Regions from separate parts of the Homo sapiens genome. Here region 2 is linked to region 1. A link means that fine-mapping ties the variant in region 1 to the expression of a gene that starts in the linked region. Tissue or cell type: whole blood. Region 1 holds a variant in brackets; the other region holds the start of a gene. All regions are shown on one strand. Distances are between the middles of the regions. Region 1 overlaps RNGTT (RNA guanylyltransferase and 5'-phosphatase). Region 2 holds the start of RNGTT (RNA guanylyltransferase and 5'-phosphatase).

Region 1 (12,039 bases):
CCAACATGGAGAAACCTCATCTCTACTAAAAATAGAAAAATTAACTGGGGTTGGTGGCGGTTGCCTGTAATCCCAGCTACTCGGGAGGCTGCGGCAGGAGAATCGCGTGAGCCCAGGAGGCAGAGATTGCAGTGAGCTGAGATCATGCCACTGCACTCTAGCCTGGGCGACAGAGCGAGACACCATCTCAAAAAAAAGACTGAGAATGAACCATGATGGGCTTCAAAGAACAAAAACACAGGGTCATGTATGCCAAGTAAAGGAAATTTTCTAAGTTATGAGTGCTTAGATGTCACATAATGATTAGAATGGAAAATCACTATTTGATTAAGAGTGCTAGCCAGGTGCAGTGGCTCATGCCTGTAATCCCTGCACTTTAGGAGGCCGAGGCGGGAATATCACTTGAGGCCAGGAGTTCAAGACCAGCCTGGACAACACAGTATGACCCTGTCTCTACAAAAAATAAAATTTAAAAAATAGCCAGGCATGGTGGCAAGTGCCTGTAGTACCAGCTACTCGGGAGGTTGAGGTGGGAAGATTGCTCGAGACCAGGAGGTCGAGGATGCAGTGAGCTATGATTGCACCACTGCACTCCAGCCTGGATGACTGAGTGAGACACAGTCTTAAAAAGCAAACAAACAAAAAACAGTGCTGAGGGAGGACTCCAGACTGCAACAAAGTGGATAGGAAAAAATGGATTCAAGTATAGATTCTTTTAAAAAGTCAGCTGAGAAAGGGAAGAGGGAATGCAAAACAGAAAGAAGGGTACGGGGTTTTTTTCAGCGGGAGGGGATTATTTAACAAGTTTAGGTATGTTTACAGGCTCAGGACAAGAACCTAGTTAAACCACAAAGCTTGACAATAATAGAAACGATATAAGTGAAATTAAGTTTCTGAAAGAAGAAAATAAAAAACAAAGAGATCAGCCTTGAACTGAAGACATCACTTAGAAATAAATAGCTATGACCAAGAAAATCTATAAATTCCATTATCTCCATTGCTTTGTAAGAAAAAGTGCTTCAAAAAAGCCACACAAAGATGTGCACTATAAACACATTTTTGTATTCATGTATCTTAACCCAACATGTAAATTTCCTTACTATCTTCTATTTCAGACCAATTCAAGCAACAAATATTTCAACTTTCGATGTTTCTCACCTAAGCTACTGTTTTTGTATCCAATTTTTACTCTTGCAAGATTAAATATTTTTATGAATAGGAAATGTAATAATAATTGCCAATTAGCTAATATGTCATGTGAAGATATGTAATCTAGGAAAGTACCATTTTCCTTTTAATATTCTTTATATGCAAATACAAAAAGTCTTAGTCTAATGGTTCAGTTATACATCAAAACATTTATAGATAGGGTTATAAAGTTACAAAACCATCAAAACAAACCACTATAGAAAAATGTGGGAGATTATGTATTTGATATTAAAAAATCCATTAATTAGGTATACTACAAGCTTAGATACGTCTTCAGTTTTTGTTTAAAGCAATTTTCAGTTTTCTTCATCATGAGAATGGGTCCATCTAGTGGTAAGTAAGCCACAGTTTTTAACTAAATATTAGCTCACAATTAACTATTTCAAGGCAACTTCTATTCAAATTTTTCCAGGCAAGCTAATATAATGAAATAAATGTATATGGCATTTACAATCAAACTAGGGAAAGAAACTCCCCAACAAATAGACAGAGAGATTAGCTATAGCTATACATGTTGGGGCAGTTTATAAAGGGGCTGGTGACAATGTATCTTTTTAAATAAAGCCTGATCTCAACATACACTATTTTGGAGGGTGTGGGGGGTATAGACAGGGTCTCTCTATGTTGCCAAGGCTGGTCTTGAACTCCTGGGCTCAAGAGATCCTTGGCCTTGGTCTTCTGGGATTGTAGGCATGAGCCACCACACCTGGCCCACAATTTTATTTCTATCTCACTAGCTAGATAAATTTTTTAATGCTAAAAATCCTAATTATTTGATCAGTCTAATTAGGTCAGTAGTTCTTTTTTTTTTTTTTTTTTTTTTTTTTGAGACGGAGTTTTGTTCTTTTTGCCCAGGCTGGAGTGCAATGGAGCAATCTCGGCTCACTACAACCTCTACCTCAGCCTCCTGAGTACCTGGGATTACAGGCATGCGCCACCACGCCTGGCTAATTTTGTATTTTTAGTAGAGACAGGGTTTCACCATGGTGGTCAGGCTGGTCTCAAACTCTGACCTCAGGTGATCCACCCGCCTCGGCCTCCCAAAGTGTTGGGATTACAGGCGTGAGCCACTGCACCGAGGATTCAGTAGTTCTCAACTGGGGAAGATTTTGCCCCCCAGGGGACATTTTGTAATGTCTAGAGACAATTTTAATTGTTACAATTTGTGGGATGAAGTTGAAGTCCAGCCTGAACAACATAGCCAGACCTGGTCTCTAAAAAATTATTTAATATAATACAATAAAGGCAAAAAAAATTAATGCAGTTGTTCCTCAGACTCCTCAGGGGATTGGTTCTGGGATCCCCCTCAGATACCAAAATCCTCCGATGCTCAGTGCTCAAGTGCCTTGTATAAAATGGCATAGTATTTGCATATGACCTATGAACATCCTGCCGTTTTCTTTGAATCACCTCTAGGTATTACTTATAATACCTAATGCAATGTAAGTGCTATGTGAACAGTTACTATACTGTATTTGTTGTTTTGAAAAAAGCAGGTTATTTATATGGTACAGTATGCAGCTATTATTTAACAGAACAATATTATGAGATATACATGAAATATGTTAAGGATGTGTGTATATATATTCATACATTTATATGAATATATATAACAGTCACACATACATACACATATATTGAGGTATATGACTAGAACCTACACAGCTTAAGGTAATACTGAGGCCTTTATCTGAATAAGTAAAAACAACTCACAGAAGTGTTTTCTCATTTGAGAGAAGCCATTATAGGGGTAAACATTAAATATGCTTAATGAATTCAAAGGAGGGCAGTCAAGCAATTTTAACCTCTGGCATTAGATGTCATGATTTTAGAAAGATTCATACTCCAGGTTTAGGAAAACAAATTCATCCTTGTTATAAATTGTGCAGTTGTATTCTTAGAAGAACTGATAAGAAAAACTTCTAATTGTTTTGAGTGTTTACAGGTTATAAAATTTATAGAACCTAGTGATATATATATATTTTGTTTTATATTCCCGGCAGTGATTCTGTTCATGTGGATTGAATTGGAAACATTTGCTTTGGGCCTGCCAAATTTTGGAGCACAGGATGTATTGCCAGTTATTTCTTATAGTATTACTGTAGAGACAATAACAGAAACTAGTCTCAGAACTGATTGCTGATAACACCTTTCTAAATAAAAAGCACTAAAGAATCAAGCTTAAGTAGTCTTAGGATCTGAAAATACTGTCCTGCTTTTATAGTACTTTCATTTATTTTTAGTTTCAGAGAAGGAATTTTTATCAGCCTTGCACAAACTCTTGCTGATCAATATTTGTGACCAGTAGTAAACATTTGTGATGTGGCAAAGGTTAGACTCAGGTTTCTTTTCAAAGCTGTCTTGGTTTTAAAAAAAAATCCCAGCCTGGGTGACATAGTGAGACCTGGTCTTTAAAAAAAAAAAAAGTAATCTTTGAATTAGCTGATATAATTGTTAATTTATCAATTACAGTTGACAACTGATTCAGTTATCAGTTGATAATTGGTGAGGCTGTGGGCTAATGCTGTAGGCTTCATGGAAATATAAAGTTCTTGAAACACACAGAAGCTTGAAACCTTTTCTAATCCTTAGCAGTAACTACAGCTTCATAGTCCCTTATCTGAAACCCTTAGAACCAGATGTTTTCAATTTTTACCATACTGTTAGCTTCTCTGGGGCAGTACTCTCAAATTTTTTTTTTATTATGGAAATTTGCAGACATACCCAAAGCAGTGAGAATAGAAAAATGAAACCTCATGTATCCATCATCCCTCTTTGGTAATTATCATTTTGCTGATTTTTTTTCATCCTCCACCCTTAATAATATTTTTGGAGTAAATTGGCCTTCCTATATCTGTATTAAAAATATTTGGGAAAAAACTCAATAAAAAATACAGTAAAAAATAATACAAATTTAAAAATACAATATAGTAACTGTTCACATAGAACTTACATTGTATTAGGTATTATAAGTAATACCTAGAGGTGATTCAAAGAAAACGGCAGGATGTTCATAGGTCATATGCAAATACTATGCCATTTTATACAAGGCACTTGAGCACTGAGCATCAGAGGATTTTGGTATCTGAGGGGGATCCTAGAACCAATCCCCTGAGGAGTCTGAGGAACAACCACATTAATTTTTTTTTTGCCTTTATTATTATTATATTAAATAATTTTTTAGAGACCAGGTCTGGCTATGTTGTCCAGGCTGGACTTCAACTCCCAGGCTCAAGCAGTCTTTCCACCTTAGCTCCCAAGTAGCTGGGACTACAGGCATGTGCCACTGGGCCCAGCTCTTACTATTATTTTTAATTTATACATAATAACTGTATTATAAATATATAAATACATATTTATGGGGTAGAGTGTGATATTTCAATACATGTCTACAATGTATAAAGATCAAATCAGAGTAATTAGCATTTTAATGACCTTAAACTACATTTTAGAGCAAGTCACAGACATGTCATGTCACTAAAAATGTTTCAATACACATCTCTAATAAGGACTCTGGGTTTCATATGATTACCATGCAATAATTATACCAAAAGAAGAGTTATAAATTCCTTAACGTCATCTAGAACCTAGTTTGTTTTTAGATTTCCTCAATTACCTTAAAAAAAAATTTTTTTTTTTGAGATGGAGTCTCGCTCTGTCACCCAGGCTGGAGTGCAGTGGCGCAATCTCGGCTCACTGCAAGCTCCACCTCCCGGGTTCATGCTATTCTCCTGCCTCAGCCTCCCAAGTAGCTGGGACTACAGGCGTCCGCCACCACGCCCAGCTAATTTTTTGTATTTTTTTATTAGAAACAGGGTTTCACCATGTTAGTCAGGATGGTCTTGATCTCCTGACCTTGTGATCCACCCGCCTCGGCCTCCCAAAGTACTGGGATAAAGTTAATGTTTCAAACCAGGATCCAACAATACCTACAAACTGCATTTTTTGTTAGGTATCTCAAGTGTCCCTGATTCGCTCTTTTAAATGCAATCAATATGATGGAAAAGCCTAGCCACTGTTCTATGAAATGTTCCACATTCTGGATTTATCTGATTGCATCCTCATGGTTTCAATTAGCTTGTTCTCTTATCTCCCATATGTCTTGTAAATTGATAGTTAAATCCAGAGACATAATTAGATTCACTTTTAAGACTTTAGGTAAGAATATTTTATAGATGGTACTGTGTATTTTCTTTCATACCACATCAGCAAGCACATAATGTTTGGCTGTCCCACTTTTAGTGGTACTAACATAAGTGGGTTCAAGTGGTGGCTGCTCATTTCTTCTGTTATAAAGTTTTCCATTTTGTATTTTACTTAATGATTTTACTGACCATTGATGATTGTTGTTTCCAGGTTGTTTTTTTGTTACCAAGGGAAGCTGTGGTGAAATTCCTTTCACATAACTCTTTATGTCCAT[C/T]TCTGACTACTTCCTTAAAATAAGTTCGTAGTCTTGATGAGTCAAGAGAAACACTTTTAAGGATCTTGAGAAATACCACCATGTTCTCTCTCCACATAGCCCTCTGTAGAGACTATACCAATTAACACTCAAAAGTGTATGAATGCACCCATTTTATCCAATCCTTGACACTAACAGACATTATAATTTTTTTTTCCAAGAAGGAAAAGTTTATTGAGTCAGCCACAGAGGAGCAGAGAAACAGACGCAGGGAGGTTCTCTGTGCAGCAGGGTATGCAACAAACATTTACCTGATGAAGAGAACAAAACCCAAAGGCTCTGTGTAGAAACAGACACAAACACAAGGCCACTTTTACCCACCTAATGTTAGGTGCAACATTACTCTTCCTTACGATCCCTTTTCCTCATAAAACATAGCATTATGTGTTCAACAAACATATCGTAGCTAAATCAGCAAGAGCTATTATAGTGCTCCAACTTAATAAGTTGATTTAAAAAAAAACAGGTGTTCTATGGCCAGTTCACAATTAAAATAGTTTTGTTCCAAGATTCCTTTCTCTGGCAACAAGGCATTTCCAACAAACAGGTCATTCTGTCACCAGGAGCTGGTTTCAGTCCATGGCACAGAGCAACGTGCCCCTGGCAGCCCCAGGGAGAGGAAGGGGAAGCCACCGGGAGGGGTACTCAAGTTATCCTGGAGGCCCTGAGGAGGGGTGGCCAAGGGCCACCTCAATGCTGGGGGGCTCCATCCAGGATAGTGCTGGCTGGCTTCGCATGAGGAGGTGACAAGAACTTTAGGCTGGTCCCCCAACATGCCATGTGCAAGGGCCTTGTTCAACCCAGAACTGAACTGACACCCCTCCCAGGTAATGCAGGGCAAAGTCCCCTAGGAGCTCTCAGAAATATAATTTTTTTAATCTTTGCCAATTTGATGTGGAGTGCAGCTACCAGCATGTACTTTAATTTGTATCTCATTAGCAAGTGAGAAAAATTTTTTTCATGTTTCTTGGCTTCTTGTATTTCATATTCTGTAAATTGCTCTTTCATTGTTTTCCATAATTTTCTATTAAGGAATGCCTCTTTCACTTACTGGTGTATAAGATATCTTCATAAATAAGATTATTAACTTTTTATGTCACATATGCTTCAGATATTTTTCCAAATTTGTCAAAATCTTTTTTTGAGACAGAATTCTTGCTATGTTGCCCAGACCAGTGTCAAACTCCTGGGCTCAAGCAATCCTTCTGCCTCAGCCTCTCAAGTAGCTGGGATTACAGGCATGTGCCACCAAGCCAGACCCCAATTTGTCCAACATCTTTTTGCCTCCCTTCTGTTGTGTCTTTTGTTGTTGTTGTTTTATGTTTTATTTTTTTCTTTGCCCTCAAACATTCTCCTCTCCAATTTTTTTTTTTTTTTAGAGACAGATTCTCACTCTATTGCCCAAGCTGGAGTGCAGGTGTGATCATACCTCACTATAGCCTCAAACTCCTGGGCTCAAGCAGTCCTCCCACTTCAGCCTCTTAAGTAGCTGGGACTACAGGAGTACACTGCTGCACTTGGCTAATTTTTTTATTTACAGAGACAGGGTCTCACTTTGTTACTCAGGATGGTCTCAAACCCCTGGCTTCAAGTGATCCTCCCATCTTAGCCTCCCAAAGTGCTGAGATAACAATGGTGAGCCACTATACCCACCTGTTGTGTTTTTTTTTAAGACAAAAATTTTTCTCTTTTATGTGGCCAACTAGAAACTAATTACAGCAACTAATTACAGATTTCAACTTTAAAGCCAGAAACTGGATTAAAAACCTGGCTTATCCTTGTTAGTATAGCAGTGACAAGAAAAAAAAAGAAAAAACCTGGCTCAACTACTTATTAGATGCATGACCATGGGCGAAGTACTTAACTTCTCTGAGACTCACTTTCCTTATCTATAGTTCCCCAAGTCCACTGAACAAATAATAAGCATTTATTAATACTAGCTTATTAATAAATAAGGGTTCACGCCTGTAATCCCAGCACTTTGGGAGGCCAAGGTGGGTAGATCACTTGAACCCAGGAGTTCAAGACCAGCCTAGGCAACATGGTGAAACAGTGTCTCTACAAAAAATACAAAAATTAGCAGGGTGTGGTGGTGCGCACGCCTATGGTCCCAGCTACTCGGGAGGCTGAGGTGGGAGGATCACTTGAGCCCTGCAGACAGAGGTTGCAGTGAGCCGAAGTCACACCACTGCACTCTAGCCTGGGCAATACGGCAAGACCTTACCTCATAAAAAAAAAAAAAAAACAACTAGCTGTTACTATCATCATTAATAGCCACCATACTTTAAATTCTGACAGCAGTTCTCAAATTTAAGTCTGCATAAAAGCCACCTAATACTTTTCTTTTGAAAATCTAGATTCCTGGCAAAAGTGCAGTGGTGCACGTAGTCCCAGCAACTCAGGAGGCCAAGGCAGGAGGATCAATTGAGGACAGGAGTTCGAGGCTGTAGTGTGCTATAATCATGCCTATAAATAGACACTGCACTCCAAGTGGGCAACATAGCAAGACCCTGTCTCTTAAAAAAAAATCTGGATTCCTAACATTCATCCTTAGACATTTTGATTACGTAGGTCCAGGATAGGCCCTAAAACATACATTTCTAACAAGTATCTTCAAGTGGTTCTGATACAGGCAGTCCAGGAGCACTCCTAAAAGAAAAATACTCATTTATGGATTCTGTCTTTGGTGATATACATGGAATATCCTTCTTTGTTTACTCCAGAATTAAATAAATATTTACTATTTTCTCCTATATTCTTTTTGGTCCTTTTAAAAATATTTAATACACCTAAAATTCACTTATTATGTGGTTGACTAATGGAACACCATTTGGTGAAAAATCACACCTTTCCTCTCTAATTTAAAAACATCTCCTTTACCACCAGGAACTAGTGCTATCAGTTCCATTGCTTTACCATATGATTTAATGACTGGAAAGAAAAATCTCCTCATTACTCTTGTTTTTCAAATTTTTCTTGCTCATAACTTGCATGTCTGATTTGCCAAACTATTTTTTTCTGTGCTCGGTAATATTCAGTGACTTAATAGAGGTGGGGATTTTACAAATTAATTTCAAAGTAATTCTGCCTAACTTTCATTGGGATTTTGGTTAGAACAACATTAAAACTTTGAAATTAATGTGGAAACAAGTAACGTCTCTCCATTTCTTCATGTTTATTTTAATATTTAAATATATTTTCTTCATAAAGACCATCTACATTTATTAGTAAAAATTCCTTGGTGTTTTGTACTTCTGTTATAGAAGAGAGAGGTAGTTTCAAGTGTGAACATGCAACTCAGATTGCTTAGGATATAATCCACACTCTAGCCCTTACTGGCTGTGTGAGTGACCCTTCAGCAGTCTTAACTTTTCCAAGTCTCAGTTTAAGGGCATAACAATACTATCTACCTAATATAATTGCTATGAAAAGAAAATGAGACAATGTGTGTGACATGGTTTACACAAAGACTAGCAGGGAGGAAATGTTCAATATGTGATAGCCAATATTGTTAAGATTAATGGGACTATTTTCTGATTATATTTTCTAACTAATTATTGCTTGTTTCCAGGAAAGTTGCTGATGTTTTCTTTTTTATCTTACGTTCTCAATATATCCCCAAATTTTCTTACTACTAGTTTTTCCGTTAATTATCTAAATAAGGAAAAACATTAGCTACTTAAAATCAAACAAGACACAAAAAAATTTGATGAAAAAAAGTTTTAAAATATTACCAAAAAATTAAAATGAGATGAATAGGAAATATTTTCAAACAGTAGATATATGAATTTACATCATCTAGCCCTAAGAAGAGAAAGAACTACTCAATAAACTGTGCTGAAACAAATGGTTGGTTATGTAGAAAACATTTAATTGGGCAGGCATGGTGGTTCACGCCTGTAATCCCAGCACTTTGGGAGGCCGAGGTAGGCAGGCAGATCACCCGAGGCCAGGAGTCCAAGACCAGCCCAGTCAATATGGTGAAACCCCATCTCTACTAAAAATACAAAAATTAAGCCCGGCACGGTGGCTCACACCTGTAATCCCAGCACTTTGGGAGGCTGAGGCGGGCAGATCACCTGAGGTTGGGAGTTCAAGACCATCCTGACCAACATGGAGAAACCCTGTCTCTACTAAAAATACATAATTAGCCGGGCATGGTGGCACATGCCTGTAATCCCAGCTACTCAGGAGGCTGAGGCAGGAGAATTGCTTGAACCCAGGAGGCAGAGGTTGCAGTGAGCTGACAGTGTGCCATTGCACTCCAGCCAGGGGAACAAGAGCAAAACTCCATCTCAAAAAAAAAAAAAATACAAAAATTAGCAGGGTGTGGTAGTGCATGCCTGTAATCCCAGCTACTCAGGGGGCTGAGGTGGGAGAATCGCTTGAACCTGGGAGGCAGAGGTTGCAGTGAGCCGAGATCACTCCACTGCACTCCAGCCTGGGCAACAGAGTGGGATTCCATCTCAAAAAAAAAAAAAAAGAAAGAAAAGGAAACTTTACATTGCATCCTCAATTTAAACCATATACCAACAGAAATAACAGAAAAGCAAAGTTGGCCAGGCACAGTGGCTCATGCCTGTAATCTCAGCATTTTGAGAGGCCGTGGCAAGAGGATCACTTGACACCAGCAGTTCAAACCAAGCCTGGGCAACATAGTGAGACCCTGTCTCTACAAAAAATAAAAATAAAAATAAATAGCTGGGGGTAGTGGTGTGTGCCTGTAATCCCAGCTACTCAGGAAGCTGAGAAGAGAGGATCACTTGAGCCCAGGAGTTCAAGGCTGCAGTGAGCCAAGATCGCAGCACTGCACTCCGGCCCGGGCGATACAGCAAGACTTTGTCTCAAAAAATAATTTTTCATTAAAAAAAAATTAAATTTAAAACCAAACCTTAAAAATTCTAGAAGACCACTCCTAGCAGCATTGTTTATAAAAGCAAAACAACAACAACAACAAACCTGAAAATAACTCAAAAGTCATTTTCAGTAACTGCCATTTTATGAAAATTTACTTATTAAATTTGTTATTGCCTGCCCTCCTTCCCTCAGCCTCCAGCCCACACTAGAATATGAGCTCTGTAAGAGCAGGATGTTTTTTTCTATTTTGTTCACTGATGTGTTCCACGAGCTGGTGCCTGGTATAGATAGAGTAGCAATCAATAAAAATCTGATGAAGGAATTGTGCATCAACAAGAGTATAAACTGTGGTGTATTTGTATAATGGAATACTATATAGAAGCAAAAATGAACTACAATTACATCACCATACATTGCTCTCAGAAATCCTGAATAAAAAAGAATGAAGTTTCAGAATAATATAGTATAAAATGTAAAATTATAAAATGTAGAAGTATAAAAAATAAATATGTAGTGTTTAGGATAGACTTTCCCAACAGGACACCTGAAGAGAGGAAATCAGGGCTTTATCTAGAAAAATGTAAAAATTATGAAAATACATTTATTACATAATTCACAAGTCAATCTCTCATTTTAATAAACACTACTTGGTCATTATTTAAAACAGAAAAAACTTTCATATCAACTTATTTGCAAACAAGAAAACAGAAACCTAACTGCAAAATAAAATATTCAACAGTGGCAAAGTAAAGCCAAACATACCTATAAGTTCAGGTGGATTTCTTTCATTAAACCGCTCACACAGACGAATAAAGGTCTCAGTATTCTCAGTGGTAGGGCACTCACCATGTCTAGTAATATAGAAAAAGTTTTTTTGAAAAAAGAGATTACAAATTGTGATGAAAGGTTTCAATATTAAAGAATCTTAATATATAACTTACCCTTTACACTGAAGTTTTATATATTTGATTCCTTCTTTTTCTATGTCATTTCGGTCATAGAACCTTGAAGTATTTGTCAGGTCCACCAACAAGCCCATTTTAACCTAAAAAAAAAAAAAAATGAAAGGGCAAATTTACTAGTAACTTAATTTGTTCCCAAATAAGTAGACTAAATGGCAATACTACAGTTCATTCATTTACATTGAGGGAGATTCTGTATGTACTTTGCCCCTGAACAATTGATAATAAAAGTATCACTTATCAAAGTCTTATTCAAGACACTAAAACTAAGCAGGCACTTGATAAAATAAATTAACTCCCAAACTAAGGAAAGAACAGGAATATAAGCAAAACAAATTCTACTGCCAACATCACAAAAGTCTATGCAAAAGAGAAAATGCTAGAGTTTTCTCTAGTGTTTGCTGCATATACCTCTGCACCTGTGATTTATTAGACAAGAGGCTAGAGCAGGAATGGCATCTATCTGAAGTATACCACAACTCAAGCTCTCGGCACAAATCACCCACCCCAGCCTTCCAAGCAGCCACCACCAATAATTCTGTTAATATCTAT
Region 2 (12,039 bases), 39 kb after region 1:
CCAGCCTGGCCAACGTGGTGAAACCCCGCTTCTATTAAAAATACAAAAATTAGCCAGACGTGGTGGCAGGTAGTCCCAGCTACTCAGGAGGCTGAGGCAGGAGAATCACTTGAACCCGGGAGGCAGAGGTTGCAATGAGCTGAGATGGTGCCACCGCACTCCAGACTGGGTGACAGAGCAAGACTCTGTCTCAAAAATAACTAAATAAAATAAAAATAAATGTGATACGTCACATAAACAGAATTAAAAACAAAAATCACATGATCATCTCAATAGATACAGAAAAAGTATTTGACAAAATCCAGTATCCCTTCATGATTAAAACCTTCAGCAAAACTGGCACAGAAGGGACGTACCTCAAGGTAATAGAGCCATACCTCAACATAATAAAAGGCATCTATGACAAACACATGACCAACACTATACTGAATGGGGAAAGGTTGAAAGCATTCCCCCTGGGAACTGGAACAAGACAAGGATGCTACTTTCACCACTTCTATTTAACATAGTACTGGAAGTCCTCACCAGAGCAATCAGGCAAGAGAAAGAAATAAAGGGCATCCAAATTGGTAAAGAGGAAGTCACACTGTCACTGTTCACTGATGATATGATTGTATACATAGGAAACCCTAAAGACTCATCCAAAAAGCTCCCAAATCTGACAAATGAATTCTTTAAAGTTTCAGGATACAAAATCAACGTACACAAATCAGTAGCACTGCTATGCACCAACAATGGCCAAGCTGAGAATCAAATCAAGAACTCAATCCCTTTTACAACAGCTGCATAAAAAAAATAATAACAATAGAATACTTAGGAATATACCTAACCAAGGAGGTGAAAGATCTCTAAAAGGAAAACTACAAAACACTACTGAAATAAATCACAGATGACACAAACAAATGGAAACACATCCCATGCTCATAGATGGGTATAATCAATACTATGAAAATGATCATACTGCCAAAAGCAATCTTTAGATTCAATGCAATTCCCATCAAAGTACCATCATCATTCTTCACAGAACCAGAAAAAGCAATCCTAAAATTCATTGAACCAAAAAAGAGCCCAAATAGCCAAGGTAAGCAAACAAAAAAGAACAAATGTAAAGGCATCACATTACCCAACTTCAAATTATACTACAAGACTATAGTAACCAAAACAGCATAGTACTGGTATAAAAATAGGCACACAGACCCATGGAACAGAATAGAGAACCCAGAAAGAAAGCCAAACACTTACAGCCAACTGATCTTTGACAAAGCAAACAAAAGCATAAAGTGGGGAAAGGACACCCTATTCAACAAATGGTCCTGGGATAACTAACAAGCTACGCGTAGAAGAATGAAACTCATCTCTCACCTTATACAAAGTCAACTGGAGATGGATCAACTCAAACTTAAGTAAGATCTGAAACCATAAAAATTCTAGAAGATAACATTGGAAAAAACTCTTCTAGACATTGACTTAGGCAGAGTTCGTGACCAAGAACCCAAAAGCAAATGCAACAAAAACAAAAATAAATAGATGGAACCTAATTAAACTAAAAAGCTTCTGCACAGCAAAAGAAATAATCAGCAGAGTAAACAGACAACCCACAGAGTGGGAGAAAATCTTCGCAAACTATGCATCTGACAAAGAACTAATATCCAGAATCTACAAGGAACTGAAACAAATGAGCAAGAAAAAAACAAATAATCCCATCAAAAAGTGGACAAAGGACATGAACAGACAAAAGAAGATATACAGTTGGCCAAGAAGCATATGAAAAATGTTCAACATCACTATCAAGGAAATGCAAATTAAAACTACAATGAGATACCACCTTACTCCTGCAAGAATGGCCATAATTAAAATATCAAAAAATATTAGATGTTGGCATGAATGTGGGGAAAAGGTAACACTTTTACACTGCTGGTGGGAATGTAAATTATTACAACCACTAGGGAAAACAGTATGGTGATTCCTTGAAGAACTAGAAGAACTACCATTTGATCCAGCAATCCCACTACTGGGTATCTACCCAGAAGAAAATAAGTCATTATCTGAAAAAGCCACTTGCACAGGCATGTTTACAGCAGCACAATTTGCAATTGCAAAAATGTGGAACCAGCTTAAATGCCCAAGAACCAATGAGTGGATAAAGAAAATGTGATATGTATATATACCATGGAATACTACTCAGCCATAAAAAGGAATGAAATAATGGCATTCATGGCAACCTAGATGGAGTTGGACCCCATCATTCTAAGTGAAGTAACTCAGGAATGGAAACCCAAATATCCTGTGTTCTCACTTGTAAGTGGGAGCTAAGCTATGAGAATGCAAAGACATAACAATGATATAATGGACTTTGGGTACTCAGGGGGAAGTGTGGAGAGGGGGGATGAGGGATAAAAGACTACTACAGTGTACACTCCTTGAGTGACAGGTGCACCAAAATCTCAGAAATCATCACTGAAGTACTTATCCATGTAACCAAAAACCACCTGTCCCCCAAAAACTACTGAAATAACATAAAAATGTTTTTTAAAAAGATCTTTACTAAAGATCTCTATTTGAGCAATCAGGATCTTAATATCTCCTCCAACCTGCTTCTCTCTCAGTAAGCCCTAATAATATCAACTATCTCATGTGCATAAGCCAGACATTTGAGACTAAATTTTGACCCTCTTTCCCTCATTCTAAATACGACATCAAGTTCTGTCCATTTTCCCTTCTTAATATCTCTCAAATTAGCCTTCTACTCTTCATCTGTCACTTTTAAACTATCACTATTGTCTTTCACCTGGACTACAACAAGTTCCTAATTAGTCTCTCCATTTCCACTCTTTTCTCCATCAATTCATTAAACACAGAAAAGTCAAAGTAAGCTTTTAACTTGGATTCAAATAATCTCATCTCGATGCTGAAAAAAAAAACTGCAATTGTATGCCACTGAAAATTTAAAGCATATAAATATTAGGATACCTTATCACACCCTACTTGCCTGTATGATCAGGCTATTCTCCAACCTCTTAACCTCACTTACATCTTCCAGAACAAAGACACTTTTTCAGTCTATTATCTCTCCCATCATCATCCTATCCTAACAGAAACTTTCAATAACACCCCCTGCCAACTATTTATCTAGAAAACTTCTATTTACTGAAGATAATTCATGTATGACCTTCTCTGGGAAGTCTCACCTGATCTCCTTCTTCCTTCCCATCTCTTCTTCCTCAACCTCAAAGAATTAGGTTTATTACCTCTGATTCCCATCATATACCACAATAGAGTCATTGCTACATTTTTTACAACAGAACTGTGCTTAAAATGGATGGTTTGCTACTCCCATGAGACTCTGCTTTTTAAGGGTAATATATCTTAGCCATCTCCCTAGCACCCAGGACTAGCACAAAGTAGACATTTAAATATTTGCTAAATAAAATGACTTCAAAATCACCATCACTATCACCATCACACTATCCTGAGTACCTGGGACCACAAGTATGTGCCAATGCACCTGGCTGTGTCTCATATTTACATTCCCACAGTTCCTAGTAAGCTCTTTACATAGCAGATATGAAATAATTTTATGTTGAATGATATATCTTTAAGAAACTAGGGAGGGCTGGGTGCGGTAGCTCACACCTGTAATGCCAACACTTTGGGAGGCCAAGGCAGGCGGATCACCCGAGGTCAGCAGTTGGAGACCAGCCTGGCCAACATGGTGAAACCCCATCTCTACTAAAAATACAAAAAAGAAAAGAAAAGAAAAGAAAAAAAGGAAAAAGGAAAAGAAATTATAAGTTTGTTTTCTTCCAAGTATTCACCTGAAATCTATTAACTCAGAAGGAGGAAAAAACAGTTCTTCAGAAAATAAAGCTTGGCCCTGTCTCCAAGAGCTCTCTCTCATTGCAAGTCTGGTTTCATCAGAGAAAGTGACTTCACAGAGAAACAAATTATATGTAGTTAGTACCATTTTCTTTCTGATTCAGGAAAATTATGAACTTCTAGTACTAGTAAAGTGAATCCTAACATTTACAACATATAAGTTTGAGCAGCCATAACATTTTCCTCAATATGCAAAATATCAAAGAAATTACTGTGATGGTTAATACTGAGTGTCAACTCGATTGGATTGAAGGATGCAAAATATTGATCCTGGGTGTAGAGGGTGTTGCAAAGGAGATTAACATTTGAATCAGTGGGCTGGGAAAAGCAAACCCACCCTTAATCTGGGTGGGCACCATCTAATCAGCTGCCAGCATGGCTAGAATATAAAGCAGGCAGAAAAATGTGAAAAGACTTGACCGGCTTAGCCTCCCAGCCTACATCTTTGTCCTGTGGTGGACGCTTCCTGCCCTCAAACACTGGATTCCAAGTTCTTCCATTTTGGGACTCAGACTGACTCTCCTTGCTCCTCAGTTTGCTGACAACCTATTGTGGGACCTTGTGATCGTGTGAGTTAACAGTTAATAAACTCCCCTTTACGTCTGTATGTGTGTGTGTGTATGTATGTGTGTGTGTGTATATATATATATGTACATATATTTCCTATTAGTTCTGTCCCTCTAGAGAACCCTTACTAATAAATTACACGATAAGTACAAATTACTTTTTTTTTTTTTTGAGATGGAGTCTCACTCTGTCACCCATGCTGGAGTGCAGTGGTGCAATCTCAGCTCACTGCAACCTCCGTCTCCTGGGTTCAAGTGATTCCCCTGCCTCGGCCTCCCGAGTAGCTGGGATTACAGGCACATACCACCACGCCATCATAGCTTTTTGGCTATTCATATAACTTATTTTGTGAAGTGTCCAAATTTTTTGCTAGTTTTTAAGTCCTTTGAATTTCTTCTGTATAATACATTGATGGTGGGACTATCAAGTGTTACCACTTTGGAAAAGAGGTTGGCAGTTTCTTAAAATTCTTAAAACATACACCTACCATATGATGCAGCCATTCCTCTCCTAGAGACTTACACAAGAGAAATGAAAGTATATGTCCACACAAAGAATTGTACATGAATGTTCACAGCAGGTTTATTTGTAATAGCTAAAAACTGGAAATAACCCAAATGACCATCAATAGATGAACAGGTAAACAAATTGTGGTATACCCAGAACAATAAACTACTACTCTGCAATAAAAAAGGAATAAACTATTGATACATGCATAATCTGGATGAGTATCAAATTAATTATGCTGAGTGAAAAAAGCCACACACACTTCCTTCCACCCCAAGAAGAGTACTCACTATATGTTTCCATTTATTTAAAAATTTCTAGAAAATGCAAACCAATCTATAATTACAGAAAGCAGATCAGTGGCTGCCAGGCGAAGGAGGGATTTAAAAAGGGGCAAGAGGAAACTTTGAGGGGTTTCATGGTTGTTTCCTAGGAAAGAGATATATTTGTGTATATACAGTCAAAATTTATCAAACTGTACGCTTTAAAGCTTATTGTATTCAAGCTCAATAAAGATGAAAAAAACTACAAGAAAAATAATTAAAAAAAACAAAAACCCGGCCAAGCGGGGTGGCTCTCGCCTATAATCCCAACACTTTGGGAGGCCGAAGTGGGAGCATCGCTTGAGTCCACGAGTTCAAGACCAGCCTGGGCAACACAGTGAAACCCTGTCTCCACAAAAAATAAACAAAAAAATTATGGCCAGGCACAGTGGCTCACGGCTGTAATCCCAGCACTTTGGGAGGCCGAGGCGGGCGGATCACTTGAGGCCAGGCGTTGGAGACCAGCCTGGTCAACACGATGAAACCCTGTCTCTACTAAAAACAAAAATTAGCCGGGTGTGGTGGCACGCGCCTGTAATCCCAGCTACTTGGGAGGCTGAGGCAGTGAGCCGAGATCACGCCACTGCACTCCAGCCTGGACGACAGAGAGAGACTATGTCTCAAATATATACATTATAAATATATATATACTTTAATAAATAAAAAAATTAGCCGGGTGCGGTGGCAGGAGCATGTAGTCCCAGCTACTTGGGAGGCTGAGGTGGGAGGATCCCCAGCCCGAGCAAGAGACCCTGTCTCACAAGAAAATAAAAATAAAAAACTAACAAAAACACCCTCCAGATTCCCAGTCTCAATGTGACCCCATTTCACCGCTGGGAACCGCCCCTTCCCTCCTTAACCCTCCTCCATCTCAATACTGATATTCATCCCTTCTTTCGAGGGGAAGGTTGAACCCTAACAGGTTCGCAAACTACTAAGACTCAAAGTACGCCCACTGTATTCCTGGATCCTCACCTCCTGCCACCAACCTCCTGTCTACCTTCACATTCGCACAGTTAGCCTTGCAGGAATAGTAACAAGTGCCCCCCATCCGCCGACCATCCCCTCCCGTTCATGTTCCCATTCATCCACGAAGCGTAATCCGACGGAGCATATCCCGCTCCTGAAATACCACTAATGGGCACAGAACCACCAAAAGCTGAGCTCCTCAGTCGGCCCACCCCCGGGCACGTTGGAGTGTGGGGATTCGAACGCCCCCCAGTCCAGGTTACCTGCCACCGGCTGGCCGCGCCGGGGACAGTTCAGCCACCGCGGCGGGATCTTGTTGTGAGCCATGTCTTGGGGCTGCGCAGAGCTGCCCTCCCTCACCAACGTTCACCGCGCCTTTGGAGCCGCCTCCCCGTGGTCCGGTGCACACCGGGGTCCGAGACACCCGAATCGCAGCCGTAATCTGAATTCCAACCTCTCCGATCCGGGTAACGTCAGGGGCGGCGCGCCACTTTCATTCAGGATCAACTCCACAGCTCCAGGAGAACCCACAATGCACCGCAACTTCCGCCCCCGAAAGCCCCGCCCCCTTTCCGAGGTCAGAGGGAAAGAAGAGGAAGCTCAGCGGAAGGATAGCAAAGAGTTAAGGACGCGACGAATGGGAGGAGCGGGCCTTCTCTCGCCCCACTCGGCACCGCCCCGCCCCGCCCCGTCCCGCTCCACGGACGCGCCCGGACGCTACTGGTTCGCCTTTGCGCATGTGCAATTGCCCTCGTACCGAACTCCGCAGGACGAAGCGTGTATTTTTTTCCCATCCAGACAACCTAGAGAAACCCAAAAAAGAGGGAAGCCAAGCGCCTTTCCATGCGTAGATTGCCCGCCACTTCCGTTAAGGCATCTATTTTACTGATGAAAAGAGGCCTTCTGAGCGTTACCACAGCTCAAGCTTGGCGTCCCAGCCGGATCTAGGTTTGATTTGCAATTAGGGAAAGTTGTTCAAGGGAACAAGTCTTAGGAGAATTCTAAGGACATGAGATTGGAGTACCAGAAATGGGGAATTTTTCTTTTGGTGAGTACTTACGAGGATCTATGAAGCTTCTGAAATTAATTCCAGAACACTTAGAGTTTTGTTTGTACATTTCTGGATCAAAGTTTCAAAGCATACTGGGGAGTTTGAGAGGGTCCATGTCTCCAAAAAAAGTTACTAATTAATGTGGTATAATTGACAAAGGTAGGAATTGATCAGTGGAGAACCTCTTCGTGGCGTTGTTCTCCTTGGCCTACCAAATAAACAGTGCCTTTTATTTTCCCTTCGAGTTAAGCAGAGGTGCTTGAAAAATTTTTATAAATGCCGTCCTTTAACGAGCCTTTCCTTTGTTACCAGATTAAAGTGTTAAATATAAAGCTGGATGATGGCGAATCAATTATAATGTAGTTTGGCTTTAAACACCAATGCTATATTGGAACTGCAAGAACGTAAGGCTGCAGGGAATACATTTTTAAAGCGTCGGTGGGGAACTTTCTGGGACGCTCAACCCCCTGAATGCCTGGACCCCCTCAGTAAGAGTCCCATCAATAGAGGCAGTCCAACAGCAATCTCTCTGAGGCAGCCTGAGTTAGGTCACACTTCTGGTCTGTCCTGCTGTTGCATCTGCTCAGAACTGTTAGTGAAGGTGTAAACTCCTCCCCTGACAGAACAAGATAATACCCAGTTTCCTTTAAGGCCATCAGTCTACCCAAATAATCTCCGATGAATTCCCTTTTCTGCTGATAGAGTGTGTACCATGCCCAAAGTGGTAAAAACCTTCCATCCCCAGACCCCCTCCAAGGATGGGAAAGGTGAGCCTGATCCTGGAAGAGTATCTTACCTTCCCCTTCTGGGGATGACTCCCCTTGGTGACTCCCCTTCCCACACACGCTATACCCAGTAGCTCAGTCCTAGGCACACAGAAGCTTCATACCACTGGCGAGCAACTGTTATTGGCTGTAAGGCAGCAATGTGCACTGGATTTTTATTCTGCTATCCAGTTATGCCCTCTCCATACTCATTGCCACAGAATTGGGAGGACCCTGTGGCTACCTTTTGTCCACAATAGAGAGTAGAGTAGGAGAGTGGCATCCCGATGAGCAGGCAGTTTCTCTCTGCCTGTCAGGAATGCCTTGCCTGATGTGTGTTTCTGCCTATATTGCTCCTAGTCCCAAGTTTCTACTACTCTGTGAGAAGAAAAATAGATGCTCACAGACAGACCAACATGATTCCTCCCCCGCTTCCTGGAACCCCTGACACCCTCCCAGATATGTCTTGATCTCCTCTTTATCAGATGTAGATTCTCTTCATTGGTGAGTCTTTCATCAAACATCCATTTTGCCCATAAGGAAGAGTGTGTACATGTAAAAAATAAGATTGAACGTTCTCTTTTGGCAAAAGAGAGAGATCTTATCTGTCTTCCCTTTTCCTAGGACTTTTCCTTGAGAAAAACCTATATTTATTAATCCTTCCTCTTCACTTTGATATGTAGATAAATCTTTTGTTTTTGCAGACAGGGTCTCACTTTCTCACCCAGGCTAGAGTGCAGTGGGCATGATCAGGGCAGCCTTACTGGAGCCTCAACCTCCCAAGCTCAAGCAATCCTCTCACCTCAGCCCCCAAGGAGCTGGGACTACAGGTGCAGGCCCCCACACCCCACTAACTTTTTTATACTTTTTTCGTCTGGAACTCCTGCAAGCAGCCCTCCCACCTCAGCCTCCCAAAGTGCTGGTAAGACAGCCAGGTGGGAAGGATTCCTTGGCAGAATCTCCTTTTGACCTGAGCACTGGGAGGAATGCACCCTGTGGTGGAGCCTTGGGAAATTTGCGCCATTTGCAGTGGGGAGGAGCCTGGCCCCTCCTTTTCCTAGGTGGAACCTGGGATTCAGTCTACCAGGCAGGAAGCACTCTGGCTTTGGGGAGAGTCTCTGTTTCCCTTTTTTTCTTTTTGCCCAATAAATTCCATTCTCACCCTTCAAGGCATCTGTGAGCCTAATATTTCATGGCCATGTGACCAGGACCCAGCTCTTAGCTGAACTAAGGAGAAAGTCGTACAACAGCTTTGGCACCCAATGTGGGGCTTGAGAAGCGGTTGAGTGACACGGGGACTCAAAACTTTTCACTGTCATTTCTAAGCCTTTTCATGCGTGGACTTCTGAGGGTAGGGAAACCATGCCCCCACTCCCATCGCTCCCTGGGGTCAGGGGCCTTTCCATGGCCTTTGCCTTCGTTTTTTGGGAAGGATAGGCAAGTCGCAGCTCCTCATTCCCTCTCCCCTCCCAGCTGGGGCTGGGGAATGCCACATGTCCACAGCATCTTCCCCTTCCCTGGCCAAGGCTCAACTCCATCTGATAAGCTTCTCTCCCTGGTAGAGGAACCATTTGCCTAAGAATAAAAGGTTTATTCCCCCAGGCATCCTTTTTTCTTCACCCCATCAACAGTTAACTTTTAAACCAGATGTTTTTTTTCTTTTTCACTAGGCTAGGAATGATAAGGATCCCTGTTTATATTCTCCTTAAAGTTTGGTTGTGAAAAAGGATCTTATGGGGACTGGTTTTCTTCTGCCTGTCTGTGTAGCTATATATATGTTGTGTACATGATGTCTATGAAAAGAGCTCAAAGGCCAGGCACGGTGGCTCACACCTGTAATCCCAGCACATTGGGAGGCTGAGTCAGGCAGATCACCTGAGGTCGAGAGTTCAAGACCAGCCTGACCAACTTGGAGAAACCCCATCTCTACTAAAAATACAGAATTAGCCAGGCATGGTGGCACATGCCTGTAATCCCAGCTACTTGGGAGGCTGAGGCAGGAGAATCACTTAAACCTGGGAGGTGGAGATTGCACTCCAGCGTGGGCAGCAGGAGCAAAACTCCATCTCAAAAAAAAAAAAAAAAAAGGAGCTCTAAGGCCAGGTGTGGTGGCTCATGCCTGTAATCCCAGCACTTTGGGAGGCCAAGGCAGGCAGATCATTTGAGAGTCAAGAGATTGAGACCAGCTTGGCCAACATGGTGAAACCCTGTCTCTACTAAAAATACAAAAATTAGCCAGGTGTGGTGACGTGCCTGTAGTCCCAGCTATTTGGGAGGCTGAGGCAGGAGAATCCCTTGAACCCAGGAGGCAGAGGTTGCATTGAGCTGAGATTGTACCACTGCACTCCAGCCTGGCCAACAGAACAAGACTCTGTCTCAAAAAAAAAAAAAAAAAAAAAAAAAAACTCTAATTGGCCTAAAGGAAGACAAGTGCTTAGATCATATATTTTTTAAAGGGAAGGTAAAAGATGTGGTACCTTTCAGTTCATGTGACTTTAATCTTTGAGAAATAAAAACAGCCTTAAAGATTATTGGTAAAAAACAGATGTCATCAAAATGTAAATAGGTGGACTAAATTATGCAGGTTAGGTACTAGTCTTGCTAAATGTTTTAATGTTATAAACTGCTTTTTGAGTTTTGAGAACTATCTGACTTGCTGGCTTCACAATTGATAAGGCCTGGGGACATATGGAACTAACCATGTCATTAATTATGCTAGAAGGAGTCAAAACTTCGCTGCACCTGGCACACAATTAAAACAACTTACCAGGTTTTACATTAAAGTTAAAATTGCTAGGAGTTACCATTATAATGTATAATTGAAACTACTGAAAATAGATTTACATGCAAGGTGTGTAAGAACAGTAAAATGTGTTTTTTAGTAAAAGGTAATGGAAGGCATGGAAATGTAAATTTTTGCCTAGGGTTAGGGAATTGTTTTAAATTAGGTAAGATAAAGCTAAAGGTTTAAACAAGTTCTGGAAGGTTAAAATTAATCTTGCAAAAGAAATGCTGTGTGTGAACATTGGCTAAATTCAAAAGTAAATTGAGCATTGAAATAAAAGCACAACAAAGTTTTCTTAAGGCACTAATCTGCACTTTAGCAAAATTTGTAAAGGGTTATAAAAAGTTTTTGCTTCTTTAAAATTTCTGAGTAATTTTGGCAAAATAAATAATTTATGGAAATCTGGAATTCTATTTCATAACATCAAGTGTTTTAAACCACTAACATATTTAACAGGCTTCCCAAAAATCAAACTTCAGTTTCAAAATTGTCTTTCCTGACACCTGGCTTTTCAGAGGCTCCAGAAGGACCCTAGAGTGTCCAGAAGAGAAATGTAAACAGGATTAGTTGACATGTTTAGGTATGTGGGATTGCCAAAATAATGTTCAGTTTTCTTTTTTTCTTTTCTTTTTTTTTTTTTTTTTTTTTTGAGACAGAGTCTCACTCTGTAACCAGGCTGGAGTGCAGTGACACGATCTCAGCTTACTGCAACCTCCGCCTCCTAGGTTCAAGTGATTTTCCTGCCTCAGCCTCCCAAGTAGCTGAGATTATAGGCACCCACCACCATGCCCAGCTAATTTTTTTGTATTTTAGTAGAGACAGAGTTTTGCCATTTTGGCCAGGCTGGTCTTGAACTCCTGACCTCAGGCGATCTACCCTCCTCAGCCTCCCAAAGTGCTGGGATTACAGGCATGAGCCACTGCACCCGGCCCAGTTTTCTTTAGGTTATATTATTGTGAATAATACTAATATATGTTCCAAAATTGTATGGGATTTCTAAAATTCTAATGTCTGAGATAACCAAACTTCTTTGTCAATTGTGTTTCTAACTGTAACTACCCTGGACATTTTGTTATTCACAGACAATTGTTGTCTTGTTTTAATCCTTTTCAAAAGATGATTTATAATGAGCTATAGAACGTTAACAGGTGCTCTCAAATACCAATTTCTGATGACTTTGGAGATTGTAACAAAAGG

What was found. PIP is the estimated chance that this variant, and not a neighbour inherited with it, causes the effect.
Region 2: it holds the start of RNGTT, and the variant in region 1 is fine-mapped to the expression of RNGTT in whole blood (TOPMed, PIP 0.97).

The regions. Positions count from the first base shown.
Region 1 is chr6:88,917,698-88,929,736 of GRCh38, forward strand. It overlaps RNGTT (RNA guanylyltransferase and 5'-phosphatase), which reads right to left. Exons shown (of 16, transcript NM_003800.5): 3 at 11,467-11,570; 4 at 11,288-11,376. Among named protein-coding and RNA genes, the nearest start is that of RNGTT, 40 kb to the right of the region's middle. The variant C/T (reference allele first, on the strand shown) is at 5,630.
Region 2 is chr6:88,956,841-88,968,879 of GRCh38, forward strand. RNGTT (RNA guanylyltransferase and 5'-phosphatase) reads right to left here and starts at 6,778. Exons shown (of 16, transcript NM_003800.5): 1 at 6,506-6,778. The coding sequence starts at 6,569. RefSeq lists enhancers at 5,197-6,123, 6,478-6,857 and a silencer at 6,841-7,075.